4 linked regions of the Homo sapiens genome follow. The protein of the gene in region 4 purifies or fractionates together with the protein of the main gene of each other region. This does not show direct contact. Each region holds a gene or a part of one and is shown on either strand. Other genes may lie near its edges.

Region 1 (7,502 bases), on a different chromosome or scaffold from region 4:
TCACTAACAGTGGAGGACCCACAGTCATGGGGCTGTGCTGCCATTTTCACAAAACACCATGGCTCAAAACATTTTAGAGCTGATTAGTGGCCATGTGCCCTTGCCTGTACGGTGTCCCTTCCCCGCCTCCCTCCTCTGCTAGCAGAACTCACACCCACCTGTACCCCAGAAAGCTTTCATTATCATACTCTCTCCAACCACAATAGGGGCAGGCATGTGGTCCACACTGGCCAGAGTATCCTATTCCCTTGGATGCAGGGATTCATTCAGGGTGGGCATGTGATCCCACCAGAGCCAAGTAAGTTTTCAGAGATTTCTTTTTTCTTTATCAAATGGATTCTGACAGAAGGGATTGATAGTAATTCTGAGTGAAAGAGTTTCACCCTTTGGGAGACAGCTACTAAAGGCCATATAAGAAAGCCAGGATCTGGCTGGGCACGGTGGCTCATGCCTATCATCCCAGCACTTTGGGAGGCCAAGGTGGCCGGATCACAAGGTCAGGAGATTGAGACCATCCCGGCTAACATAGTGAAACCCCATCTCTACTAAAAATACAAAAAAAAGTTAGCTGGGCGTGGTGGCGGGCGCCTGTAGTCCCAGCTACTCGGGAGGCTGAGGCAGGAGAATGACGTAAACGCAGGAGGCGGAACTTGGCAGTGAGCCGAGATCGTCCACTGCATTCCGGCCTGGGCAAGACTCTTTGTCTCAAAAACAAAAAATAAACAAAGCCAGGATCGTTGACTTCAAAGGGAGAGCCTGCCTAAGAACAAAAGTCAACTCGAAAACATCAGAACCAGGATATAGTGTTCTGATCAGCGTGTGGCTCCTACGTCAAGATGAACTGAAAACCAACTGTACCTTTCTATGCTTCCTTCCGGGTTCTTCGAGTCAGTACGTTTGAGAGTTAGCTGACACTTGCCATCACCCCACTAATGGTGGTATTTGTACCAGAAGTAGGTTTCAAACAGAGATCATAGAACACAGTCAACTCTGTCTCCTGTAACCAAGATATGGCTAATGCAAAGTCCCCCTGAAAACTGCCTTCAAAGCCTGAGAAGGAAGATTCTTTTGAAAGCCTTCAATGAGGCTGGGCCGGGCGCAGTGGCTCACACCTGTAACCCCAGCACTTTGGTAGGCCGAGGCCAGCGGATCACCTGAGGTCAGGAGTCTGAGACCATCCTGGCCAACGTGGCGAAACACCATCTCTACTAAAAATACAAAAATTAGCCAGTCATGGTGGCATGCCTGTAGTCCCAGCTACTCGGGAGGCTGAGGCACAGGAATCGCTTGAATCTGAGAGGCAGAAGTTGAAATGAGCTAAGATGGCGCCACTGCACTCCAGCCTGAGCAACAGAGCAAGACTCCATCACGAAAAAAAAAAAAAAGAAAGCCTTCAATGAGATAATGTAAATAAAGCACCTATCCAACACCAAGATTATAAAACCTCCTCAACAAATGGAAGCTATCATCGTCATCAATTTCATTTGGAGAGGGTAGTTTTTATATTTTAGAACAGCAAAAGTCCATTTGTAGCTAAGTTTGGTTAATATAGATAAATCCTACTTAGGTTAAAAACAAATTTTTTTAATAAACTTCTTACAAAAGGAAATTCCAAGAAAAAGAGTTCAATTTGTTTTTTCCCACAGCCTCTTTGGTGAAGAAAGTTCAAATTTTGTTCTGAGCAATGAGGGTACTGTTGAAAAAGAAAGGTGTCAAGATTTTCTTGATCTTACTGCCTCATTTTCCACAAGCCTTCACATTTCTACCTTTACCCAGGGCTGACACGTAATTATCACTCAGGGTTGTGTGTTTCTTCAAAAATGGGGTTTTCTTTTTAAAATTCTACAGACACACCTCATGCAAACCATCAGACAATCTACCGCAGAGGCGGCAGAACATACAACCATTGGAGCCACATATGTACAAATGGCACAAATTCTAGAGATTCATGTAAACCGCTCATTATCCCCACCCTCTCTTCAACCTTCCTGCTCTCTACCTTAAGATGCCATTGCCAATGTGACACTTCAAAGGTGGGTCAGAAACATAATCAGTATTTTCTAGACTAAAGCTCTAAATTACAAGGCTTGAAGCAACGTGGAGGATTTGAGTCTAAAGCTGACAGCTCTGGCTCTGCCTTCAACACTAATGGAGATGCCTGCAACTGCCCCTACCTTCAAGTGAGCAGGGCAAGCTGGGTCCAGATCCCTAAGGAACCAGGATTCCAGACTGTGTGTTGCTGTTAACCCCCAGTTCGTCCCCTGCAGACCTGGGCCAAGGCTTGAAATCTAGGACTTGCTGACTGTGTTGTCTCAATACAAGTTCAACTTCTGCATTTTAATCTATGGACTACAGGACAGGGGAAGTGACCCCCACCCAAACTGCCTCTAACAGGAGGCTTTGATAACCAGCTGCTATACACAGATGCACGCATATCAGAATGCATGGCCATACAGGCTCCCATTGAGAGGAAAAGGCTTTTACCTTTACATGACATGCTTCTTCTGAAGAGTTTAGATTAATAAGCCTTGGACGGGTTAGAGACTTACCTGTAGGAGCCTGTTGCCACGCGGATGCCATCAATCAACGTGAACTTTTCGTGAACCTTCCCAATAATCTTAGTTCCTGACCTTGCATAGTAGATATTTCCTGTGATAGTCCGAACTGTCATTAACTGTTGGCAGGGAGTGGGAGAAATATAAATGAACAATTCAGCAATACTCATCTGCTGAGCAAATGGTTAGGACAAAAAGCCTTAGTTTACAATTCCCAGATATAATTATTGGCATATGCGTGGCTTAGGGTCACCATTTAGTGACAGTATACATGGTACACTAGCCAGACAGTTCTCAAGCCTCAAGTGATGTTACTTCTACATTTGGTCCATCTTCTCATCTGTTCTTTTCTTATATTTACTTTTGAGACCCTTAGTTCATGCGTGTATGTGTTCTAAAAGAACACTCAACCTTTTTGGGATACTAAACAACAGAATCCAAGAAATGATTCTGAAGCAAAATGTGTGGGATAAAATCATCAAAGAAAACATGCTAGTAATAAAGAACATTTTAGCAAAGTCTGAAAGAAGGTAAGCTGATCTTCCTCCAACTTGTTTGTTTAATGGCATCACATTAGAGTAACAGTCCATCCTCACTCACCCTCAACACCATAATGGGTATGGAGAATAGGAACACAGGACAGGCCTTCTCTAGTACAGGCCTGCTGAGGCAGAAACACTCATATCACATGTGGCTTAACAAGCAATGTCACATCTCCTACAAATACATAATTACCAAAAACGTACACTGGTAGTGGTATGCTGGGGCAATATACTGCACATGTATGCATAATTATTCCTGTAAAATGACACACATAAATGTATAAACAATGGCATACAAAATACTACAACAATCTGCATTCTCTGGAGCAGACCAGTGGCTCTATATCGTTAGAAATCTTACACATTTAAATTAAACGTGTAAGATTTTTGTTTGACTCATTGATTCCATAAACATAGAGAGCCCCTACTATGTGCCAAGCCGTGAGACAACAGAGATGTAAGGCATGCTCCTTACCTTCAAGGACTAGAATAAGAGAGAGAAAACTAATTGATTTAGAAACTACAGTAACACATAACAGCATCCAGAGAAATGAAAACCTATATCCACACAAAACCTCTACACATGTTCACAGCAACTTTATTCATAACAGACAAAAACTGGAAATATCCAAATGTCCTTCAGTGGCTGAATGGTATAAGATACCATACAATACTCAGCAATGAAAAGGAACAAACTGTTGATACGTGCACATCTTGGATGGATTTCAAAAGCACTGTGATGAGAGAAAAAAAGCAAATCTTGAAAGGTCACATACTGTATAATTCCATTTACAAAATAGACTGTAAACGACAAAATTATAGAAATAGAGAACAAATTAGTGGTTGCTAGGGGTTAAAGTGAGGGGAGTGATGTGACTATATAAAGGAGCAGGAGGAGGGAGATCTTTGTGGTGATGGAAACTTCTGTCTGGATATGCATGCATGACGATAACATGGCACAAAGCTGTATACAATGTCAATTTCCAGGTTTTGACATTGTACCATAAGTTACATAAGATGTAACATTTGGGGAAACTGGGTGAAGGGTACATGAAACTTTTCTGTACAATCTTTGCAACTTCTGTTAATCTATCAATATTCAAAATAAGCTAAAAATAAAACACAAAACTATGGCAAGACATAATGCTACTTCTGTGGTCTTCTTACCAAATGCGTAATCTGAATTTAACTTTGATAAAACATCAGACAAACCCAAATTCTACAAAAAATTGTTTTTTTTTTTTTTTTTTTTTTTGAGGTGGAGTCTCACTCTGGAGTGCAGTAGCACAATCTCGGCTCACTGCAACCTCCATCTCCCAGGTTCAAGCAATTCTCCTGCCTCAGCCTCCCGAGTAGCTAAGACTACAGGCACCTGCCATCATGCCTGGTTAATTGTTTTGTATTTTTAGTAGAGACGGGGTTTCGCCATATTGGCCAAGCTGGTCTCAAACTCCTGACCTCAGGTGATCTGCCCACCTCAACCTCCCAAAGTGCTGGGATTACAGGCGTGAGCCACTGCACCCAGCTAGCTAGTATTCTTTAAAGGTGTCAAGATCCAGCCGGGCGCAGTGCCAAATGTCTGTCGTTCCAGCTACTTGGGAGGCTGGTTGATGCAAGAGGATCAATTGAGTCCAGGAGTTCAAGACCAGCCTAGGCAACATAGCGAGACCTTATCTCTTAAAAAAAAAAACGGGGGGTGGGGTGGTGGGGGGGGGGTGGGGGCAGGTCAAGACCCTAAAAGACAAAGAAAGATGGAGAAACTGTTCCAGATTAAATCACATGAAGGAGACTTGACAACTAAATGTAAGGTGTGATCCTGGACTGGATTGGATCCTGGACCATAAAAAAGGGCATTAGTGGAACGACCGGGAAATGTATAAGTCTGTAAATTAGATAGTATTGATATCAAGTTTATTTCCTGATTTTGTTATTTGTACTGAGGTTTGTAAGATGTTAACATGTGGAGAACTTGGGTGAAGAGTATTCAGGAATTTCTTATATTATTTTTGTAACTTCTTTATAAATCTTAAATTATTTCAAAATAAAAATTAAAAAAAGAAAAACGACTAGGGAATGTCATAGAGGTACACCTGGACTTGGTGGGAGGAGAGCTTCCTGGAGGAGGTGATGACCCCTGAGCCAAGTCTTAAAGGATCAACATATAATAAGCATAAGAATACCATTATGGGCAGATTAGGTGTGGTTTTCTGTATCTTTCCCTTTGACACACATCTGAATGTTGCATATGCCTCTGTGATCGTGGCCAAAGCACTTGTGAGCGCCTGCACATCAATGTGTGACCAAGTTCCTACAGACAGCACAACCCAACATTCTGAACCAGCTACAGAGGCAGAGCATGGGGACATCAGCCCCCATACAGCAAGGGGCACAAATTCACTAGCACAGAGAGGAACAGGAGACACAAGCAACCAGGGAAGACAGTGCTTCCCCAGGAAGGAGGTAAAACTACAAAAACTGGGGAGGCCAGAGAAATAGGCCTTTTTTTTTTTTTTTGAGACAGAGTCTCTCTCTGTTGCCCAGGCTGGAGTGCAGTGGCGCGATCTCGGCTCACTGCAACCTCTGCCTCCCGGGTTCAAGCGATTCTCCTTCCTCAGCCTCCCAAGTAGCTGGGACTACAGGCGTGTGCCACCAGGCCTGGCTAATTTTTTATATTTTTAGTAGAGACGCGGTTTCACCGTGTTAGCCAGGGTGGTCTCGATCTCCTGACCTCGTGATCCACCCGCCTCGGCCTCCCAAAGTGCTGGGATTACAGGCGTAAGCCACCGCGCCCGGCCAGAAATAGGCCTTCTTAAACCCCCCTGCAGAGGATCTGGACACCTATGAAGGCAACAACCAACAGTAGGCAACTGAACCGGTGCCTGCTCATAGATTTCTGTCTAGTAGATAAATAGAGAAAATCACTTGACCAAAGTTGTGGCCAGAACAATTCTGTGATTTCTCTGCTAATGCATAGCCTTAATTATAGAAAGAGTACCTTGAAATTAAACACTGATACCTTCCATTTCTTTACCTGGCTAGCTGATAATGCTCTTTTCCATGCCAAAGTGTATCTTCCTTGGGTCCACCTGGACTCATTTTCTAACCACCTGTTGGGTTACATGGCTGTCTCATCTCAATTGGTCTAGAAACCCCAATCCTGTCTTTATCATGAGGCAACCAACAAGAACTCTGTGGGAGAATCTGAATTCTGTAAACCAAATTGCTTGGTAATAATAAGGTGGTAAGTTAGAGTCTCTTAGGCAGTAACTTATAGTACCAAAGACTAAATTCGTTTTGCTGACTGCTTTATATCTAGTACCCAGTGCATAATAGATACTCATACAGGTGATGAACAAATAAAGTTCTGAAGCTCACAGGTTAAGATGCTTAATTTTTACACTTGATCTTAGCCAAAAGGCTGAGAAGCCATGGGTTGCTTAATTTTTAAAAAACAAATTCTGGGCCGGATATGGTGGCTTATGCCTGTAATCCCAGCAATTTGGGAGGCCGAGGCGGGTGGATCAGTTGAGGTCAGGAGTTTGAGACCAGCCTGACCAACATGGTGAAACCCTGTCTCTATTAAAAATACAAAAAATTAGTCGGGTGTGGTGGTGGGCACCTGTAATCCCAGCTACTCAGGAGGCTGAGGCAGAAGAATCGCTTGAACCCGGGAGGCAGAAGTTGCAGTGAGCTGAGATCGTGCCACTGCACTCCAGCCTGGGCAACAAGAGCAAAATTCCATCTCAAAAAAACACAACAACAACAAAAAAACAAATTCTGTAATAAATATGACAATTTTTCTTTCTTCTTTCCATGAAAGTGACCAAGCTAGCTATGTTGTATAGGCTTCCACTGAAACACTTAGGTCATTTTCAGAATCAGAGAAATAGACATAAAATCTAATTTTACAATAATGAGAAATGAACAGCAGCAGCATGTAATAGTGATTACAGACACTGGGGTTGGAGGCAGACATACAAGGAGGCAGACCCTAGGCCCACTACTTTGAAGTGGTGGACACTTGGATTCTCTGTGTCACTATTTCCTGGTCTAAAACACAGGTGCCACTTACCTGATAGGGGCTGCTTTGAGGATTCAGTTACATAACATTTGTTAAAAGCACAGAGCAGGCTGGGCATGGGGCCTCATGCCTGTAATCCCAGCACTTTGGGAGGCCGAGGCAGGCAGATCATCTGAGGTAGGAGTTCAAGACCAGCCTGGACAACATGGCAAAACCCCATCTGTACTAAAAATACAAAAATTAGCCAGGTGTGGTGGTACGCACCTGTAATCCCAGCTAACTGGGAGGCTGAGGCAGGATAATCTCTTGAACCTGGGAGAGGGATGTTGCAGTGAGCCTAGATTGGGCCACTGTACTCCAGCCTGGGCAACAGAGTGAGACTCT
Region 2 (7,502 bases), on a different chromosome or scaffold from region 4:
GTGTGTGTTGTTGATGTTTTTTTTGTTAGTTTTGTTTGTTTTTAGCTCATTGAGCATTTTTATAGCAGTTATTTTAAATATTTAATCAGGCAGCTTATAGATCTGTGATTCTTTAGGGTTAGTTTCTGGAGTTTTATTTTATTTCTTAGGATTGGGCTGAGTTTCCCTGCTTCCTCATATGCCTTGTAATTTTTTGCTAGTATTCAGACATCTTAAAAATAATCAGTCACCTCTCCCAGTCTTTGTATACTGTCTTTGTTCAGGGAAAGACCTTTACCATTCAGCCCAGCCACAGATTCTAGGACCTTTCAAATCTTTTCTGACCTCTCGTTCCTTTGGTGTCTGCCCATGGAACTGCAGGTTTAACATGCTGCTTACCTCTATTTTCAATGATTTCTAAACTCTGGTTCCAATCCTACCAGCACTCAGGTAAGATAGAAGCCAGTCTCTTGGGCTGCACTGAAGACAAGCCAGAATTATGATCCACAGTCTACTCTTTTGTTTCCATCCTGAGGGAGGACCCCCAGTCTGGGGGCTGGGGGAAAAGTTTCTCTCTGTTTGTTTCATGCTGTACCATATGGGGGAGGAATAGGAATGAGCTGGCCAAACATCACAGGTTTTTCAACCTGTATGGCTGGAATATAATGTTCTGGGTGCTCTATCTTTTCAATTGGTCGCTAGCATTTCACAGAGGTCTTCTGTTTCACATATTGTTGTTAACTAGTGTCTCTATGGGGTACGTAGGGCTTGTAACTTTCTAATCTGCCACTTTACTGACCTTGTGTTTGTGTTTTCGGAAGTATTTTTATTTGTAGTTTGTGTCTGTTTCTTCTAGGTGCCATTTTCCAGCTTGTTTTGATCTATGATTGCATCTAAGCTCTTAAGCTTTATAAGCTGTCTTTGAAACTTTGTTTATTCATCTGTTAATCTTTGTTATGTGTTTATATTTAAGAATGAGGGACTGTAAAGCTGATTAGAAACTGAGCGGGAAATGCTTATCAACGTTTGAGTTTACAGCTGAATGATAGACTGGGGACCTGGCAACTTTACAGGAGAATCCCCGACTATCAATATAAATATCACTTATCTGGGGTTTTTCAATGTTTCCAGAGAATAATGTCTTTCTCCAAAAGATTGTCAAAGGAGATGGAATTTGGAATGCAGTCAGAATATGATCCTAACTGAAGATATTCTAGAAGCAGAATGGGAAAGAGAGCTGAGGGTCTGATAAGTCTCATTTTTAGCTCACCTTTATCCCAGTCATGGTTTGTTTAAAGTTTCTGAGTTCAGACTTTCTCTGGATTGGTTTCTGCTGAAGTAAACCTTAGATTCCTGAAAGGGATAGGAAGGAGTGCTTCATGGGAAAGGAAAGAGTAGGGAACCTGGAGGCCCAACTGCTCTATATGAGACTTTCAATCAATCTTCCTGTTTCTCTATTTTCATGACCTTTCTAACCCACCATTTGTAGTACCTTTTGATCCGATGTTGAATTCATAAAGATTCTGCTGGGCCCATCTGGCTTATTCTCATTGCTGCTCACCTCATGCAAACTTCCTATAAGTCAGCCACCACTTCTCCATCAGATTTCTCTGTTCTAAACATTTATTAAATACTTTCACTTGCTACTTCCCTTTTCCCTTTGCTATCTTTTTAGTATTGTGTAGGAAAGAAAAAGAAATAAACCTGCATGATAATCCAGATTTAATGTAAACCTTTTAAGTTTTCCACCAACATAAACATCTTTGCCTTTTAGTCTTGATTTTGAAACTAATAGTTCATTTATATTATCATTTGTTTATTTACAACTAATGTTTTTAAGTGTTTACAATATGCCAAGCACCGTTCTTAGCCCCTGGAAGTGCAGTCCTAAATAAGGTACACAAGATTGCTGAGCTAAATTTTATTTTAGTGGGCACTGGAGACAGACAAAGGGAGAACATACAAGAAACCATCTGATAGTGGTAATGGGGTATTGTATAAATGAAATCAGGGGAATATGATAAAGCATGATCAGATGGATACTTTGAATAGAGTGATCATAAATGTCTTCTAAGAGCATGTCAGCAGGGGAAGAGATATATTGAAGAGGGAACAATAGATAAAAGATCCTGGGGCAGATATCTGGGGGATAGCAGAAAGGCCAGTGTGGTAGGACCACATTAAGCAAGGGAAGAGCTATCCATAGTAAAACTGGAAAGCAGGCAGGGTAGGAATTATCTTAGGCCAGGTAAGGAGCCTGAATTTTCTTTTAAACAAAACAGAAAGTTCTGTGTGGAAGTGTGACATGACCCAATTTGTTTTATGCAAAGATCACTTCTGCTGTTCTGTTGATTGAAAAATGAGCAAATGAGAACACTAAGAGTCAAATTAGCCGAAAATGCTAAGACTAGGGTGATAGTGGGATAGGACTGATTTGTGAGAAGTTTTGCAAGCAGAGTCAACAGGACCTTTTGGTTCTGAAAAAGAGGGCATTCAAAGATGACTGCTTGTTTCCTGTCTTGATCACCTGAAAGATGGCTGAGTCACTCACTTAAGCAATACTAGGGAAGGAATAGGTCGGGGAAGGAGGAGTGCTAGATGACAACTTATGAGTCATACATGTGAGGCTTGCAAGGCCCACTAAAATTTTGGGTAGAGATTGGACACAGATTCCAGAGATGAGGAAGAGGTCAGCACTGGCAATACGGACTTCGGACTTCATAGTTAATGGCATAGAAATCACCTACGATAATAGAGGAATACAGAGATCATTTCCAAGCCCTGAAGCATGTCTGTAGGTTTTCAGATTTACTTACTGAATATATTCAATGAATGTCTTCCTGTTGCCTGAAACTTTATTACAATATTATTTTCTGATTTACTATAGCAGGGAAACTTTTCCAATTGCCACACATTCACCAACACCGTATCTTCTTAGTTTTCTAACCTCAACACTTGGAAGTTGTTTTTATTTAATAACGTATGGATGTTCTTTTGACATGAAGTCTTTTGGTTCTTTCTTTTTACTACTGGCTCAACATTTTCACTCATTATTCCTATTTCTACTTTGGTTGGGCTCTTACTTTTAAGTCTGTACTACAATAGTACTACAAATAGCTACTAGAAAAAAATAGTTCCTCAAACATCTCTTTCTATTATAATTTATCCAAATTTGGAAACAAATTCTACATAATCGAACTTTCTGTTTTGTTTTCAAGATTTTCCCCACTAGTTCATCAGTCTTTTATATGGCTTCTTTGCTCCAGCTATATATAGTATGTTTTCTGTGTTCAACTAGAACATGACCCTTATTGCATTCTTCCCTTTTCCATATTTCTCCCTCCACACAAATTGTCTTCCCACATCTTTTGTGTCTGAACTGGGAATCTAGTCTTTATCAAAATATTGCAGAACTTCACTTTCTTCATGGATTTCCTCATACTTGATAGTTCACTGTTCATTCCATTACTTGATGTTTCTAATATTTTGAATTCATACCTTTAGTCAGATTGAAAATTTCTTTAGTTACTTACTTTTATACCATTTCTTTTAAGTCAGCCCAGTGGCATAATAAATATTCCTTCTGTATCATGCTTCCTATAGGCATACTAGATAAAATTAAGCATATCCAAATAACAAGATTCTTAAGTTACATGCTCCTGTTTGTGATATGTAATATTTTGTTTATTTTAAATGTTTAATCTGCACATTCTTTTAATTATTTTCCTGCATTTTTATTGTCTCCTTTATAGAAATAATAAGATGCTTCAATGTGGAGAGTGTCTCTTTTTTCTTTTGTATTAACCCCCATTGTGTCATATACATTACTTTATGCATAGCATAATAGCAATTCATTTATTTTTCAGTTCAGTTGACTGTATATTAAATCACTAGATTTTCAAAAATCAGATTTAAAATTTGATATGAATTTTAAAGGTAGCTGTTACCTCTAAACTCTAGGAAAGGAATTGGAGCTTCCATAAAGTACTATAAAGTCATACAGACATTAATTTCCTAAAAATTGTATTTTATATTAAAAGATCCTGATTGGCATTTTGACTGGCATGGTTTCTGAAGCCTGCATTTACTAATACTATGTACAGTGAGTACAGTGAATTCTGCCCTTTAATGATTGAGGCAGCTGGCCACAAATCCTGTTTACAGCTCTTGGCATCCTAAATTACACTTATTGAGTAAACCACAGAGATAACAGTCTGAAAATTTACCGACTCTTAAAATACATGCATTAACACAGCTGTATCTTACATTATATCATGTTACAGCTATGAGACATTGTAGCTATTATGCTGTCCGTATCCTTACATTGGACACGAGGAAAGTGAAGCCCAAGCTCATGTGTCTACAATTCAGCAGAAACCAGGCCTCTTGACTTTTTCTCCAACACTGGCTTTACTGCATTCTGCCAAGATGGTATATATAAAATATAATATCAGTTTTTATGCCACGAAGTTTTGACACAGATGTAAAATACACAGCAAATTTTTCTTTATTTTTTTTAACATTCTATTTTATTTATGTCATTAGTGTTTGGGGAACAGTTGGTTTTTGGTTGCATGGATAAGTTCTTTAGTGATGATTTCTGAAATTTTGGTGCACCCATCACCCAAGCAGTGTACAATATACCCAAGGTGTAGTCTGTTACCCCTCACCCCTCTCCTACCCTCCTTCTCTAGTCATTATATCATTCTTCAGACTTTGCATCTTCATATCTTTAACTCTCACTGATAAGTGAGAATATACAATATTTTGTTTTCCATTCCTGAGTTACTTCACTTAGAATAATGGTCTCCAGTTCCATCCAGGTTGTTGCAAATGCCATTATTTTGTTCCTTTTTATGGTTGAGTAGTATTCCATGGTATATACATACCACATTTCTTTATCCACTTGTTGGTTGATGAGCATTTAGGCTGGTTTCATATTTTTGCTATTGCAAATTGTGCTGCTATAAATAGGCATGTGCAAGTGTTTTTCATATAATAACTTCTTTTCCTCTGGGTAGATACCCAATAGTGGGATTGCTGGATTGAATGGCAGTTCTACTTTTAGTTCTTCAAGGAATCTTCCTACTGTTTTCCATAGTGGTTTTACTAGTATACATTTCCACCAGGAGTGTAAAAATGTTCTCTTTTCACCACATGCATGCCAATGTCTATTAGTTTTTGATTTTTTAATTATGGCCATACTTGCTGGAGTAAAGTGGTACCTCATTGTGGGCTTAATTTGCATTTCCCAGATAATTAGTGATGTTGAGCATTTTCTTTTGTATTTTTGTTGGTCATTTGTATATTTTCTATTGAGAATTGTCTATTCATGTCTTTTGCCCATTTTGATGGGATTATTTGTTTTTTTCTTGCTGATTTGAGTTCCTTGTGGATTCTGGATATTATTCCTTTGTTGGATGCATAGTTTGCAAATAGTTTCTCCCACTCTGTGGGCTGTCTGTTTACTCTGCTGATTATTTTGCTGTGTAGAAGCTTTTTTGTTTAACTAGGTTCCATCTATTTTTCTCTGTTTTTGTTGCATTTGTTTTGGGGTTCTTGGTCATGAATTCTTTGCATAAGCCAATGTCTAGAAGAGTTTTTATTATGTTATCATCTAGAATTGTTATGGTTTCAGGTCTTAGATTTAAGTTTTTGATCCATCTTGAGTCGATTTTTGCTTAAGGTGAGAAGTGAGGATCCAGTTTCATTCTTCTACATGTGGCTTGCCAATTATTCCAGTATCATTTGTTGAATAGGGTGTCCTTTCCCCACTTTATATTTTTGTTTGCTTTGTTGAAGATCAGTTGGCTGTAGGTATTTGGCTTTATTTCTGGGTTCTCTATTCTGTTCCATTGGTGTATGTGCCTATTCTTATACCAGTAGGATGCTGTTTTGGTAACCGTAGCCTTGTAGTATAATTTGAAGTCAGGTAATTTAATGCCTCTAGATTTGTTCTTTTTGCTTGGTTTTGCTTTGGCTATGCAGGCTCTTTTTTGGTTCCATATAAATTTTGGGATTGTTTCTTCTTATTATGTGAAAAATGATGATGGTATTTTGATGGGAATTGCATTGAATCTGCAGATTGCTTTTGAAAATGCACAGCAAGTTTTTCTTTGGACTTCTGGAAAGTAGTGGATTCAAAGCCAAAATTTGAGTTGCGTTGTTATTTAAAATAGGAACATGAGGATGGGAAAACATGTAGTGCATGTAATGACGGAAAATATTCTAAATAATGATAGCCAAAGAAAAGTACAAAAACATAGTCATTAAGTGATACTTTTTTTAGTAGAACTATATGTTATTATCAATCTTTTAAATGATTAAAATTTTTCCATTTTTTTCCCCAGTTATATGTGGTCATTTGAGAAAGCTCACCTCAGCATGGTTCAGATAATTACAGGACAACTTGTTGAGTCCTTTGATGAAGAATTTAGAACTCTCTATGCCAGATCCTGTGTCCCTAGTTCATTTGCTCAGGAAGAATCAGCAAGGGTGAAGCATGGAAAAGCCCTCTGGGAAAATGGCACTTACCAGCATTCGGTGTCTTCATTAGCATCTGTTTCCAGCCAGAGAAACCTTTTTGGTAGACAAGACAAGATTCATAAACTAGATTCCAGTTACTTCAAAAACAGAGGGATATATACTTTAAATGAACATGACAAATATAACATAAGAAGTCACGGATACAAACCTCATTTTGTTCCTAACTTTAATGGTCCAAACGCAATACGTCAGTTTCAACCCAATCAGATAAATGAAAATTGGAAAAGGCATAGTTATGCTGGGGAACAGCCAGAAACAGTGCCATACCTCCTGCTTAATAGGGCTCTGAATAGAACCAATAATCCACCTGGTAATTGGAAAAAGCCATCTGATAGTCTCAGTGTGGCGTCCTCATCACGGGAAGGCTATGTAAGCCACCACAACACACCTGCCCAGAGTTTTGCCAATCGGCTTGCGCAGAGAAAAACAACAAATCTTGCAGACAGGAATTCAAATGTTCGGAGGTCTTTTAATGGGACAGATAACCATATCCGCTTTTTGCAACAACGAATGCCAACCCTTGAACATACCACAAAGTCATTCCTACGTAACTGGAGAATTGAATCCTACTTAAATGATCATTCAGAAGCTACACCGGACTCAAATGGATCAGCTTTAGGTGACCGATTTGAGGGCTATGATAATCCTGAGAATTTGAAGGCCAATGCCCTTTATACTCATTCTCGGCTTCGTTCCTCTTTAGTATTTAAACCCACTTTACCTGAGCAAAAGGAAGTTAACAGTTGTACAACTGGCTCCTCAAATTCAACTATCATTGGTTCTCAGGGAAGTGAGACACCTAAAGAGGTCCCAGACACCCCTACGAATGTACAGCATTTGACAGACAAACCCTTGCCAGAATCAATCCCCAAGCTCCCATTGCAGTCAGAGGCACCAAAAATGCACACCTTGCAGGTTCCTGAAAACCACTCAGTAGCCTTAAACCAAACTACAAATGGCCATACTGAATCAAATAA
Region 3 (7,767 bases), on a different chromosome or scaffold from region 4:
ATCATAAAGACGTACATTATCAAGTGCTGCAATCTAGCAATTCCTCTCCTAGATATTTATCTTAAAGATATCTTAGAACACTTGAGTAGTTTCACAGAGATGAAAGCACAGCTTTCTTTAAAATAGAGAAAAATGAAGAAATCTAAATCATATCAAAGGCAAACAGCCAAATAATGATGACACATCCAAACTACAGAATCCTCTGAAGCAGTTAAAAAGAATGAGTTTTATACCTATGTATTAGTAGGGAAAGAGACCCACAGCATATTATTAAATAAAAAAGCAACAAGAAGAACAATACACACAGTGTGATCCTCCATTTATGCTAAAAAACAAAACAAAACAAGCAATAGCCAACATATGAGATGAAAATGAGATAGATGCATGGAATGGGGAGAATGGTGGTGAAGGGGCCTTTCACTTTTTACACTAGGTAAGTCTATATTGATTCAACTATAGTAAGAGTTTATTCATGCATTACTGATGTACATAAAAGTAAGCTTAAACTCACAAATCACAGCAATACAAATAAATTCCTCTCAAGAAAATCTTCCGAAAAATCAAATCCATACAAGAAAGGCCATTTTTCTAACAATTCACTTTAAAAATTCTTCTAGAAAATGTTTGTAACTTTTCATAATGACATTTGAGTTTTAATTTCAAATATTTATTTGATGATTTTTATATATTTAATTACACATACTCATACACTTCATCTGACTTACTTCTTTTTGGAATCTCTCTAATGTAAGCTTTCTCTGCATTTGGTCTTGCACCCAAGGATCCGCTGCATATTCAGATTCTAGTAGAGAAGTCCAACAATTTGCTGCATCTCTCTTTGTCTTTGTAAGAACAATACGAACCATTTTTCTGTCCTCTAAAAAAAAAACACACACACACACACGCACAAATAAATTAGAGTTCTTCATCAAGTTGTTTTTTTTTTTTTTGAGACAGTATCACTCTCACCCAGGCTGGAGTGCAGCGGCTTGATCTCGGCTCACTGAAACCTCCGCCCCCCGGGTTCAAGTGATTCTCCTGCCTCAGCCTCCCGACTAGCTGGGAATACAGGCATGCGCCACCATGCCCGGCTAACTTTTGTATTTTTAGTATAAACGGGGTTTTGCCATGTTGGCCAGGGTGGTCTCAAGAAGTTCTTCATTAAATTTTATATTTCCAAAAACAACTAACTAATTTTTTCTCCCCCCACTAGGTAACTTTGACATACAACGGTTTTCAACACATTTCTATTGCTTTATCTTTCAAAGCTGCAAAGACAAAAAAGACCTAATACAAAAGAGGAAAAGATATCAAGACAAAATTATTTTAATTTGATGAATTATAGTAATTACCCTTACCCAAAGTCCATGTTCCCTCATCAGCTATTGTAGAATCAAAGAGTTTGCCCTGAAAAATAAACATATAAGGTGCTAAAAATACAGAATTTAATTTTTATAAAGTTTTCATGATTAAGATTTACCTACTTTCCTACCTAATCCACATCTTATACCACCACTTCACCATGACATTTATAGGTGCACAACCCTAAATTTTCTCCCAGCAGGTAAAATGGAAACTAGTTTACACTGCAAGGGATATTTACTATGGCAAAGAACACAGAGCTCTCTAAAGAAAGATCAGGGCTCCTTAATTTTTAGAAGATACAGTAATACTGACCACTGGCCAAATGTGAAATTAATATCTGAAATGCTTTAATTCTACCAATTTAAATTAACCACAAGAAGGGATCTCCTGCTAAAACTAAAAAATGTTGTCTTTTTTTTTTTTTTTTTTTTTTTTTTTGAGACAGAGTTTCGCTCTGTCGCCCAGGCTGCAGTGGCACGATCTGGCTCACTGCAACCTCCACCTCCAGGGTTCAAGCGATTCTCCTGCCTCAACCTCCCAAGTAGCTAGGACTACAGGCGCCCGCCACCACGCCCGGCTAATTTTTGTATTTTTAGTAGAGATGGGGTTTCCCCGTGTTAGCCAGGCTGGTCTCGAACTCCTGACCTTGTGATCCGCCCGCCTAGGCCTTCCAAAGTGCCAGGATTACAGGCATGAGCTACCGCACCCGGCAAAATGTTGTTTTTAAAGTAAACTTTTAAAAACGTTTTAATCTTTTTGTTGGGCAATCGGCATTAAAAAAACTTTACGTATTCCAGATTTGATAGATTAGTTGTGACTAACTGTTCACAAACTCATGTTTTTTAAAAAAATAAACAAAATATAAATTTAAAAGAGACTGCACCAGGCCCAGTAGCTCAGGCCTGTAATCCCAGGACTTTGGAGGCCAACGTGGATTGCTTGACCCCATGGGTTTGAGGCTGCTGTGAGCTACAATCTCACCCCTGCACCCCAGCATGGGAGACAGGGACCCTGTCTCAATAAATATATATTTTTTTTTAAAGAGAGAATGCCTAAACTCAAATCCATTTTAATTTGTTGCCAAATTTAAGTTATAGAAAGTGAAATTAAATGTCACTAGGAAAAGCCCACATTTTAAAATATGTCAAAATTAGTGAGAAAAAAATCCCACTGGTCTATACGTACATCAGAAATCCCAAATTCAGCAGCTACTGCTAAATTCCGAAAGTTACTGGATTTACTAATTTATAATCGTAATCTAAAACCATTGTTGAGGAAACTATGAATTGTACAATTCAGAAAAGTAACTGAGATCCAAGCTGACATAATGTCTTTCACACGAATCTTGAGGCACTCAAAGCACCTCCATATACTGTAATATATATAATAGCTAATAGCTAACATATAGTATGAACTTATTACATACCAGTGAATACTCCAAGCTCTTCATACACGTGAATACCATGTTAAGCTCAAAACAATCCCATGAGAAGGGTACTATAACTACCTTATCTTGTGGATAAGGAAGATATAGAGACACTGAACAATCTCTCGCCCAAGTTTACAAAACTAGGAAACAAGTAGTCTCCCTTCACCATATTACACTGCCATCAAACATCTTGGGCATCTAACCTGAGAACTAAATCTAATTTCAACCTGTTAGTTTAATTATACACTTAACAAAGAAAAAGCGGGTCCAGATCCAAAGAGCATTGGTGAAAAGAAATAAAAGGAGTACTACTTATTTTATGCACACACCTCTTCACCACCTGCTTGACCACTCCACAAACATGCAGGATTTTCAAGCTTTTAGATGAGAAAACTAATCACCTGACATCATCTCTAAATTCTCTGCCCGTTATTCTATCCCTATTTTCTTTGTTGTCCTTTCCTATATTTATCTATTTATGAATTACGCTTCCGTACAGGAGCTTAACCTCTCCACTGCAGGTACGTTATCTGTTGTCTTCCTGCCTGTCTTCAGTGCACGGAAGAAATATTTGTTCCTTTAGCAACCTAGTTAATCTGTTCCCAGCTGAAGCCCGTCAGAGAAGCAGAAGCAGCAGTCTTAGTTTGAAAACTAAACACGAAAATAGGCTCCTCAAATTTCCACAACTCAGCACCTGCCCTGAAGAGGCGGGGGCTCTGACCAGACCCAAACCTGGTCAGTGTTATCCTCTTTCTCTTTCTGCCAGCCACAGGAGCCGTCGGGACACCCAACAGTCGTTCAGGGAAACGGGGCTGGGGGCGTCTGGGAAGAGGAAACTGAACACAAGCCCCGAGCTGCCGCTACCTTGAGGATCTCGCGGCCGCCCACCGACAGCGCCACATGCCGGCTCTGGAGGCCGCACTGGATATCCTGGGCGCGCGTGCCTGGCGGCACCTGAACTTCAATGAACACCTCCTCCAAGGTCTGGTACCACTGGCCCCACGGGGTCCCGCACGGTACCACCCCACTCCGCTCCTCAAACGGGGCCGACATAATCCAGTCCCTCCCGGCCGCGGCCGCACCAGGCGGAGCCGAGCGCACGCGCGGAATCCCACGCTTAGGCTACGCCTCGGCCTCTCCGCTCGGGTCACTGCGCATGCGCAGGAACGCAAGCTAGCGCTTTGGTGTGCGTGTTCGTTTTTCCCTTTGAATGGCCGTTTACGGCACCGGCAGGCCCCGGATGAAAGAACTGAAATCCAGAAAAGTTCACATGCAACGAACAATGGGACAGAATTGGAACCAGTGAAGCCGGAACTCACTACACCGTCCCCTAAGTGACGCCAAAATGCACTTTCTAACGTCTCCGGAGGGAAGTGCGCTTGCGCAAATGCTAGGTTACACTTGAGTAACTCCGGGAATGACTGGGTGGGTGGGGCGGGGAACAGTAACGGTCTCCTATTGGATGGCAGCCTAAACTCGCAGGCCAGCTAATTGGACGCAATCAGAACCCAGCATTCTTTCTTCGTGTTCCTGTGCGGGATTGGTGTGCCCAGGGGTTTGGCTTTCCAATTGGCTAACGCCGGGGTGGGTGGGGAATGTGGGGAGATTTGAATTTGAAACCGGTAGGGAGTGATAATCCGCATTCAGTTGTCGAGGAGTGCCAGTCACCTTCAGTTTCTGGAGCTGGCCGTCAACATGTCCTTTCCTAAGGCGCCCTTGAAACGATTCAATGACCCTTCTGGTGCGTAAGGGGGAAAGAGCTGGGGGACGGGAGACGCCCTAACGCCCTTTGCCTCTTTCAGCTCCCTTCTTGGGAGGCAAGCAGGAGGCGATTTTAGGGTCGGGCTGGGGCTCATTCAGTTGATTGATTTTTCTCAAATATGCTCTAAGCATCTGTTACATGCCAAGCACTAATCAGGATGCTAAGGATACCGCAGTGAAACAGTCTCCGCCCCGTGGGGCTTACATTCAGGCGGGGAATACTGTCAATAAACAGCGGTAATGGAGAAACTACAGCAGGGCGAAGGGAATGGACCCGAGACGTTGGTAGCTACTTGATTTTCAAGTCCGAGAGGGCCTCACTGATAAGAACACTGGAGTATTACTTGTAGTCTGAACTTGTGCATTTCTTTTGTGTATTCCATTTGGGCATAAAAGAAGGAAGATTAGTAAAGGCAGTTTATGGGTGTAAAATTAGAGCAGCAGCACTTATTGAAAACATAAACAATGAAGTTATGGCTGATATTGACCACTTATACCTCAAGCACCGTACTAAGGCTTTACATCGATTATTAGTTATGTTAATTTCCCACCAACTCTAAGGGGTAATCCTATTATTATTTTATTGATAAAAAGACTGAGACTTAAATTTGCTCAGTGCTACATTACCAAAGTGACCGGACTGGAATATGAACCCAGCCCCCATCGTGTGCTCTTAACACCGCAATGCACAGCACAGTAACCAGGAAGCCTTAGCTGTGTTTGGTAGGCACTCATCATTTAAGATGCTGTATGCGGCCGGGCGCGGCGGCTCACGCCTGTAATCCCAGCACTTTGGGAGGCCGAGGCAGGTGGATCACGAGGTCAGGAGATCGAGACCACCGTGAAACCCCGTCTGTACTAAAAATACAAAAAAAATTAGCCAGGCGCGGTGGCGGGCGCCTGTAGTCCCAGCTGACTACAGGCTGAGGCAGGAGAATGGCGTGAACCCGGGAGGCGGAGCTTGCGATGAGCCGAGATCGCGCCACTGCACTCCAGCCTGGGCGACAGAGCAAGACTCTGTCTTACAGAAAAAAAAAAAATGCTGTATGCTGGGACTGTGCTACTAGATCTTGTTTATTCCTTCCAAAAGCCAAGTGAGGAAGGTACTGATATTGACCTCATTTTACAGATGAGAAAACAGAGGTTTTGTATCTTGCACAATCAGTAAGTGGTAGAGCTAAATATTAAAGCTCATGATTTATTCACTATCATACACTATTTCGTGGTTACTCATTACGTCTCTAAGTTTTGTCAGCCAACGTGTGAATGAAAATACAACTACTCACAAAGGAAGGCCAAATGAGCAAGTGAATCAGCACAAACTTATTTTCTTAGTTAAAAGACTCAAGGACCATATGATTTCCCGAGTAATCAAAGGACCTACTCTTAAGTTTTGTCAGCAGTGTGGCTTTAAGGTTTTTTTGGTTTTTTTGTTGTTTGCATTATAGTAGGTTAAACTGGCTTTATCAAAGATATAGTATTTCAGGCTCACAGTTACAGAAATAATACTAATTATTAATTTGATGCTTAATGTGTATGAGGCACTGTGGTGATTTTTCATATTCCAGTACTCCAGCCTGGGTGACAGTGCGAGACTCTGTTTCAAAAAAAAAAAAGCAAAAAAACCCCCAAAATTTATATTTCAACCTAAGATGTATTTTTATATCTCTACACATACATACGAAAGAAAAGTTTCACAAAACAATGCCTAACTTTGCAGCATATGAGTCATGCTTTTTCTATTGTTTTTACTTTTTAAAAAATGCTAATCAAGATCTACTCATGGGGCTGGGCCTGGTGGTTCACACGTGTAATCCTAGCACTTTGGGAGGCCGAGGCAGAGAGATCAGCTGAGGTCAGGAGTTCAAGACCAGCCTGGCCAACATGGTGAAACCCTGTCTCTAGTAAAAATACAAAAAACTAGCTGGGCGTGGTGGTGGGAGCCTGTAATCCCAGCTACTCGGGAGGCTGAGGCAGGAGAATCGCTTGAACCCAGGAGGCAAAGGTTTCAGTGAGCCAAGATGGCGCCACTACACTCCAGCCTAGACAACAGAGCAAGACTCCGTCTCAAAAAAAAAAAAAAAAAAAAAAAAATCATGAGTTCCTGTCTACTGTTTGACAAACATTTAGGGGACAGCAGTAGTTGCCTGGGAATGGTCCAAGCTCCTTGCTCTTCCTATTTATTTGCATGAGACTCTAGACTGAAGTAAATAGCTTTTCAGAGAATAGTATTAATCTATTTGTTCCCAATCAGCTAAAGCTTTAGGCTAGTAGTATTTTAATTACTTTAAGTCCTAAAGGCCCCATCTCAGGTCTGCTATGTGTATTTACTCAGAAATGCCTTCAAATCTGGGACTTTAGTTAAGTGAAATTATGCAGTATAAACTTCTGGAACATACAAATATAGTCTAGTACAATTTGTACTTTGTGTAACATTGGCTTTTTGAATTTCCTAAGCCTCACATTCTTTGTCTATAAATTATCACACAGGATTCTTGTGAGGATTAAATAAAATAACATCTGTGAAATGCTTAGCATAATGCCTGGCATTTAGTAAGTGCTCAAAAAATTCTAGTTGCTCTAGTGTGGTTGCTTTTCTTCCATGTGTTTGAATTGCAGTTGACATCTTTAATAGGTCTGATGTATTGATATTAGCCAGAGATGGATTATCACTATAAATTTTTATTCTAGGCTAAACATTGAGGGATAGACAATTTTAATTACTTTATTTCTAGAAACTGATAGTAGTTATCTTTGTGACTCTCTTCGAGTAGAGTTGACACCAAGTATTTTATTTGCTATATTCAATCCTTAGTAAGAAAGCCATATATTGCCTGTAATATATGATGTTCATCTCAAAACTGTCGTTTGCTCAGTTGCCTGTGTTCCTTTGACCCGGTTGATATAAAGGGCAAGATGATATTGTTCTTCATAGAGAGGCCTTCTTTGTAATATCAAATGGATGCAATTTTTTACATTTAAAAAAAGCAGTTTGTTAATGACATTTTTACATTTATATTCACTTTATTATGACATGTTTTAACTTAAGATCATAAGTAACATTAGATAATATATTAATGTTTTCTATTTCCTCTAGGTTGTGCACCATCTCCAGGTGCTTATGATGTTAAAACTTTAGAAGTATTGAAAGGACCAGTATCCTTTCAGAAATCACAAAGATTTAAACAACAAAAAGGTAATATAGATCACCA
Region 4 (7,410 bases):
TTACTACCAAAGCTAAATATTTTTCTTTTACATAAACTATACTCAAAAATAGCTTTATGAGACTGATTTCTGGAAAGGGCTTAATAGCTAAGAAACGAATACCTTAACTAACAAGGGTGGATAGAAAGAAACAAAGAAGCTTCCTACCCCCAACATTTGGATTTGTTAAGATTTCTTCAGCATTATAGTACTAATATATCCCTTAATGGCAGAATGTGGTAATCATGGAATTAATTATTGCTGAAGTAGTTTTCAAATGAAAAAGAGAAAAAAATAAATGAAACCTGACACAATCTGACCAAACGTGGCAATTTACAATTTCAAGGTTATTTTACAAAATGCCTACATTTACACAATAGGCTCCTGGCAGCATTTTCAGACAAATGTTCTTTTAATTTATCCTGACATGCTATAAGTGAATAAATTACACGATTTAAAGAATTAAAAGGAAAATGAGTTTTCCTTTATCTTGCATCAGAGAAAAAGAAAAGAACGTGCAAAAAGATTGAGAGGAAGAGCACGCACACACAGATAATTCAGAGAAGCAGACGGGGGTTAGGGAGGGTCAATGATCACAGAACCTCACAGTGTGCTCTCCAAGGGTAAAAGTCAACTGCTTATAGCCATTTCACAAGTATTTTAAACAACAATGTTTTGTAGTCAAACCCTTCAATGCTTGCATTCTTATTTGAAATCAGCCCAGCTATTAGTCAGTGGAAGAAGTAACAATACCAAGTTTTGGCAGGTGCAGTACTAGATATTTTACCACAAGTCATTAGAAAAAGAAAAATGAAAGAATACATTTCCCCTTCATACAAAACGATTATTTTAGAATAAAAACATTGAAAAAAGTTATATAATGAAATAAAATTTACTTGCAAGGGAATATCATGTAACAAATGGCTCGAAGTTGACTATCAAAAAATTGGGGAGATTTTTATTTCCTAGTGAATCAGCAAGGCATTTTTTGGTTGTTGTTTAAAAAAGTATTATTTCCTTATAGAAACAGTTTTCAGATTTTAGTGAACTTGTAAAACATAAAAGCTCCCATTTCAAAATATGAACAAAATCCCAGATCATATGGGTGTTTACGGTGATTACATTTATCTAAGCCATGTACATACATGTTCAGTTGTAAGATGTTAACTAAATTTCTGTGACAAATATGGTTGTTGTTGTTTTTAAAATACCGAGAACATGATATAGTTAATGTGGAATTCTAAAGATAATCTGGTAGTTACTAAGATTTTCTTATGTCTTCACAGGTAAGCAGGCGGAATCTTTCCTATTCTCAAAACTGGAATTTTTGGTTACTACTAGATCAGCTGGCTTACAGACAAGAAGCCAACCATTTTAAGAATGCTCTTTATGTGAACAATTTGCAAACCCCAGGGATGGAGAAACCCTAAAAATGCTCAATCATAAGCATTTACAACCTTTGCAGCTGTGGCTGAATACTGTCCTTCTGAAATGATATCTCAAAGCAGTCTAGTTCAAAATAAAAGGTTTTAACAAAAAATTGGCATATGGACAATGTCTCCACCAATTCGTGTGTGTCAACCATTTAGTTAACTTTTCTACTTGAATAAATGCAATAGAAAACCAGACACCACGTTTCACTACCTCAGTTAATATTCACAATTACAGAGGCTACACTTTGGGATACAGCATCACCAACGCTCCCCAGAGTCAGTTTATATTGAAATAAAGTTTTTTACACCAACTAAATGGTTGTTCACAGCCACTAGCTGGTGTACATATGAACTACAATTTCTAGATGTGGGGAGAAACAAATGCTGCTCGAATCATCTGCTCTGCTTCTTCTGTTCCTCATTCACGCTTAGTTATCTTTCACATTATTCTTGTTTTTTTCAGTTTGCTTGCCTGTCTGGGTTTGGGCCTGCTGACCCTGCCCACTGGAAGAGGCTGCCTGCTGTGCTGCTTTCTGCTTTAACATCGTCCAATCAAATGTGTAGTCATATTGGTGGTTCAGGGTCCTGAAAAGAATGCGGAATAGCTGCCTCAGATACATGTAATCTGGGACTTCCTCAAAGCGCAGCCCACGACAGTAGTTCAAGTACATGGCGAATTCTGCAGGAAACCCCTTACATAAAACTTCAACAGGGGTGGACATCTTCTTCTCACTAATCTTTTCATATTTTTGTTTTTTTGTCATAGCCCTTAGTCCTTGCCACGGCAGGCTGGTTCTATTAAAATACATGAAAACGTAGCCTAAGGATTCCATGTCATCTCGGCGGCTCTGCTCAATACCAAGATGTGCATTGATGCTGGCATATCGGACAGTGCCAATGAGGTGTTTATCTTCTCTGTACGGTATGTGTTGCCTGGTCCTGTTGTCTCTGTACTTTTTGGCCAAACCAAAATCAATAAGGAACAACTTATTACAGTGACGCCCAGTACCCATCAGGAAGTTATCTGGTTTAATGTCTCGGTGTAGAAAATTCTTTGTATGCACGTATTCAATTCTGCTGATCATCTGGTCGGCTAACATAAGTACAGTTTTCATGGTGAACCTTCTTGAACAGAAATTAAAGAGGTCTTCGAGGCTGGGTCCCAGAAGGTCCATGACTAGCACATTGTTGTCTTTTTCCTGACCATACCAGTGCATGTGGGGGATGCCAACCCCACCTTGAAGAATCGTGTAGAGTTTGCTCTCATACAGCAACTGGGGGTGCTTGACCTTCTGAGATTCCAGCTTCACTGCTACGTCCTCGCCGTTGGTGGTGGTGATGCCCAGATAAACGTCTCCAAAGGAGCCAGACCCGATCTTCCGCACCAGTTTGTATTTCCCTCCCACAACGAGTTCGGCTTTGGAGCCGCTGTTGTTTGTCATCCTGAGAGGCAAAGATGGAGGCTGGGCTCAGCCCTGACCCCTCTAGGGGAGGATGGAGGCCTCCGGGGCCCACCGGCCCGCAAGGCTGAGGATGAGGGCTGCTGGAAATGGCCACCGAGGCGTTTCCCGGTGTTACAGGGCGTGGAGTCAGCCTGATCCCTGCAGCACACCAGGATTTCCGCCAGGCCACAGTTTGCGAGGGTTTCTCAAGGTTCCAGGCTGGGCCACCACCTCTTTCTCGGTGGCGGTCGCTGCCTCGCTGTCGTGGCGATGTCGTGGGCTGAGAAAGGGGGCACAGCGAGTTGGGGCAGCAGTACTGCTGCCACCGCTACCAACGGCTGTGGGCCAGAGGGCCCGGTCACGCCGCCGGCGCCGCCATTTTGTTCCTCCACCTCAGCCAACCACAAATCGAGAATTTTTGGAGAAGCTGTTATTGTCTGAGACCTCTGTTAGGTGTTCCACTCATCTCACTCCATTTAAGACAAACTTGCTAGTCTTGTAAGGTAGCTATTATTTTCCCTGATTTGTTGGGTAAGAAAGGCTGAGTCTCAGGTAAGCGGCCTAAGGTTGCAAGAGATTGTGGGCGAGCTGGAATTCAAAACTGCCTAGGCTTAACTCGAAGCTCACCTTCTTTCAACTTAATCGTGCAGAAATGGGAGGCTTTTATAACAAAGATTTTCTTGTTTTCGGGCCCAGTCATTGTCCCATCTACTTCCTTAGCCATCATGTCTCCCTGGGTTAATGCGAGTCGGGGTGCCACCTCTTGAGGTTTTTCTGTGTGATCTCAGTGGTTGCTTCTTTAATGAGTTTAGTCAACAAGAGTTACTTACTGCTAGTTAAATTGAAATGTCTTTTTTTTTTTTTTTAAAGCGATCCTTTTGAAATTTTTTCATAGAGTGCTTTGAATTTAAATAGGATTCCACAGAGACGTTCTGGCAAAACTGACTAAATGAAGGATTCAAGTAAAATTTAACCAAAATATGGAGAAGAAACAGAAGCCGGCAGTTCTGAGCATTTTCTCAGAAGAACTGGGGCCAGCACTAGCAGAAAAAGCGGTACCATTTCAATATTTTTATGAAAGTTCACATCACAAATAACAAAACCCGTGCGATTATTTTGTTTTATGAGGAGATGGGATAGGAACTGAGTATAATCCTAACGGGGCAGTAGCAACGAATTTGGGGGCCAATGGCAGAAAGGCAGGAGAGAGAGGTGCAGCTTTGAAAGCAGGTATTCTCACTTTACTGTCTCACATAAGTTAGTGCTGTTAACTTTTCTGACCTGCATCAATCTATGGCGAGAGAAGGAGCTGGTTTGAGACATAGACGGGCATAGAACATTATAAAGTGCTTTAAAACATTTTTAAAGTCCACTTCAGACAAATATGTGAGGTGGGTAGCGCAGTATATTACTTGGCTTTGCAGCAGGAACAACTCGCAAATCTCAGTGGCTTACAATGACAAAGTTTATTTATCATTCAGGTTTTATGTAAGCTGTAGATCAGCTGCATCTCTGCTTCCTGTGTCCTCTTTGTTCTAGAATGCAGGCTGAAAGAGCAGCCTCCTTAGGAGCATGCTGTTCTCATAATAAAAGGAGTGGCAAATGTTACATTCCACTGGGCAAAACACATCACATGGCCAGGTCCAAAGACAGTGGGGTGAAAATACATACTCCTACCTCAGGTGGATAGTAATACAGTATACTGCTGGCATATTTTATTATTATGATTGTACTTCTCATTTTATACAAGTGGAAATCAAGGCATAGAGAGGTTAGATGAATTGCCCAAGACCACACTACAGACAAGTGTCAGAGGCCAATTTGAAACTGAATTCTGACCCAAGGTAGTTACTTTTTATACCGTACCAACTAGAATGGCATTTCTTTCATTTACTCATCCAACTTTGTTGAAATTTGCCTGGAGAACAATTTCCTTTCTAATAACCAAGAATAAAATTTATGTTGTTAACCCACTGCCCATTATGCTTCCTTCCCGTTCAGTCTTCCAGTCAATGGCTTCAACACGAACCTTGAAATTCAAATAATCTCTATGTGAGAGAAGTCACTATTCAAAAAAGTTACAGATAACCCATACATGGACAAAAGCTTGAATCAAAAAATCCCCTTTCAATTCTGGAACTAGAATAGTTTAATTATAGTTTATTTATTGTTTACTAAGTCCCATACTTTTTTGTACCAGTTAAATAAAGGCACTGTCTATAAAGAAGGTCAAGTGTAACTTATAATGGTGGTTGGGTGAACCTTCACTTACAGGGAAGTTGTGAGCATCTCCAGAATGGGGAGGATCAGTAACTGAAGTGATGATATGACCCTGAATAGCTTCCAATCCAGTCTCCCATGAATTCTCTTACCACAAGCCGGTGGGACTGCGGATTTTTCCCCGAACACATACTCCCTGCATTTTTTCATCTTTGGGTCTTGGCTTATGGTGTTGTTTCCTCAGCCTGAAATGCTTCCAGCCTGCTTTATCTTTCCCATCGCCCAGGTCTAATCCTAATAATCTCAGGGCTCTTCCTTAAATGCTGTTTGCTCCATGAAACCTTTTCCAATCTCCTCAACCAAATATAAATACTCTTTTTAAACCCAAACAACACTTTGCTTAAACTCTTGCATCCCCTCCTACCCTTTTGTCCAAAATTTTTCCATAAAAGATGTGCAACAAATAGTTTTTAAAATGGAAGTAAATTGAACTACTGTATTTCATAAAGTTTTGTGGACAGTGTGTGGGGTTGATGCATTCTTTATTTATTCATTCATTCAACAAATAGTTATTGAATGCCTCCTATTTGCAGGCATGAGTGACTCACCAAAGGTGGCATAGGTAGGTAATGATGGATTCAGAATGGAAATCCAGGATAGCCTGCCTCCAAAGCCAGTACTTTTAACCCCTACATAGACATCAACAGCCAGAGGCTCCTGAACGCTGGGTGGCTTCACTGTTGGGAATATATTAGTTCTGTTTCTTTTCTTTAATTGTATAAAGTATTTTACCAATGCATTTTAAAGCTATGATTTAGCCTTGATTTCAAAATTGCCTCTAAAATAATTTCTATTAATATAAGATGACCCCAGTAAAAGTAAAATAACGTATTCTGGGCAGGATTGTACTGGGTAGTATTGTACTGTTTAACAGCCAATTCGGGTTTTGTCAGTCCTGAACTTTATACAATTTTTTTTGTGGCCCTCTTTAAGAAAACAACAACAACAACAACAACAAGAACAACAACAAACAGGCATGAAATATTTAACTTAGGAAAAGAAATCATTGCAATTTACCTGAGTGTTAGAGGGTCAAGTCTTTTTTTTTATCCCCTAAGCTATCTTGATGCAATTGACCAGAAATTCTTACATAGAAATGCTTCCACATTGCAATCTGACTTCTCCTCCCCACCTGAAATACTTCACAACTCCTGTCCACTCCTAACACTTAGAAGGGACCTTGCAAAGGAGGCTTTATTCACTTCCCTGTAAGTCCGTGTCTGCTTTTGGCAATTAAGAAATGATACTCAAATGGCATTGGTTTTAGTCTCATATGAATTTTGGGGTTAATTTTCTGGGCTTCTTGGTATCTTTTCCCAGGAAATGGAGACACTTTAGTAGAATGGTCATTTGAGACACAAAAATTTCTTAGTTAAAAAAAAAAATTTTTGGCTATCAAATTGGGTCGGCAGTTGTCATTACAGAAACCATTTGGCATGAATATAATCTCCTTTTGGAACTATTTAAATAGAATACAAAATAAATCAAAATATGTTCTTAAATAAATAATGCTGTCACTAAGGGATTTACTGACATTTATGTGGCTCAAACACTATGTTCAGAATAACATTACCCAGAATCAATCACTTCAATTTTAAAAGATCCTGGAGATGACTAACTTTATAGAAGGATTTAAGTCATTTTTTCCTCAAAGCTTTTTGGAAGTATTGGCACTGCAAAGACAGTGAGACACTATTGGAAATGAGGTTATTTGGTGTAGTATCAAAAATCACAGCAGAGGGCGTCATTGTAATGTGCTGGATTTTTCTTTCTTCATGAAAGAATATTTTCTCCATGGCTCTGCATCTTTCTGTTCACTCATTTTGAAACTTGCAATATGTTTATCTGAAAAAAAGAAAACACTTAAATACCAATTTTACTATATTGAGAATGTAGGGTTCAATTTCAGCCTTAAAAATCATTACTTATTTTGTTTGGTTCCCATGAAGTTATTGCAATTCTGGCACCTTTCTGGACTTCCTTCCAGAGCAGTGAGGAGTTGTGTAACCTCTTTTACTTTTTCTTGCAGGTTGTCACCTTATTAAGACCATTCAAATTGTTGGCAGATCATTATGTGAACACATTCATTAATTATGTTACTTTATTCAAAGATCAGAAAAATTACATGAAAACAGTTCATGACATCACACTTATTGCATCTTCCAGTTCCTTTCAGTGAATTTTGCTTAAGTTCTAACAGCTATCTACTCTAATACAAAGAAAAAGCTGTAAGTTGTAATTATGTCAGATGTTCAAAATGAATGAGACTAAGTATA

Evidence for each region.
Region 1: the proteins of CSNK1A1L (region 4) and FAM83D purify together in Homo sapiens (affinity purification with mass spectrometry; 3 studies listed by BioGRID and IntAct, with this or other methods). This does not show direct contact.
Region 2: the proteins of CSNK1A1L (region 4) and FAM83B purify together in Homo sapiens (co-immunoprecipitation; 2 studies listed by BioGRID and IntAct, with this or other methods). This does not show direct contact.
Region 3: the proteins of CSNK1A1L (region 4) and HMMR purify together in Homo sapiens (affinity purification with mass spectrometry; 2 studies listed by BioGRID and IntAct, with this or other methods). This does not show direct contact.

The regions. Positions count from the first base shown.
Region 1 is NC_000020.11:38,943,048-38,950,549, reverse strand, and holds part of FAM83D (protein FAM83D), read right to left. Parts: intron 2,675-7,502; coding exon 2,550-2,674; intron 1-2,549.
Region 2 is NC_000006.12:54,933,377-54,940,878, forward strand, and holds part of FAM83B (protein FAM83B), read left to right. Parts: intron 1-6,329; coding exon 6,330-7,502. UniProt on the Homo sapiens protein: Probable proto-oncogene that functions in the epidermal growth factor receptor/EGFR signaling pathway. Activates both the EGFR itself and downstream RAS/MAPK and PI3K/AKT/TOR signaling cascades.
Region 3 is NC_000005.10:163,456,204-163,463,970, forward strand, and holds the start of HMMR (hyaluronan mediated motility receptor), read left to right. Parts: upstream 1-4,428; 5' UTR 4,429-4,489; coding exon 4,490-4,535; intron 4,536-7,652; coding exon 7,653-7,751; intron 7,752-7,767. Other genes in the region: NUDCD2 (nudC domain-containing protein 2), read right to left, coding at 726-877, 1,359-1,407, 3,659-3,847. UniProt on the Homo sapiens protein: Receptor for hyaluronic acid (HA). Involved in cell motility. When hyaluronan binds to HMMR, the phosphorylation of a number of proteins, including PTK2/FAK1 occurs.
Region 4 is NC_000013.11:37,102,403-37,109,812, forward strand, and holds CSNK1A1L (casein kinase I), read right to left. Parts: upstream 3,263-7,410; 5' UTR 2,855-3,262; coding exon 1,841-2,854; 3' UTR 857-1,840; downstream 1-856. UniProt on the Homo sapiens protein: Casein kinases are operationally defined by their preferential utilization of acidic proteins such as caseins as substrates. It can phosphorylate a large number of proteins. Participates in Wnt signaling.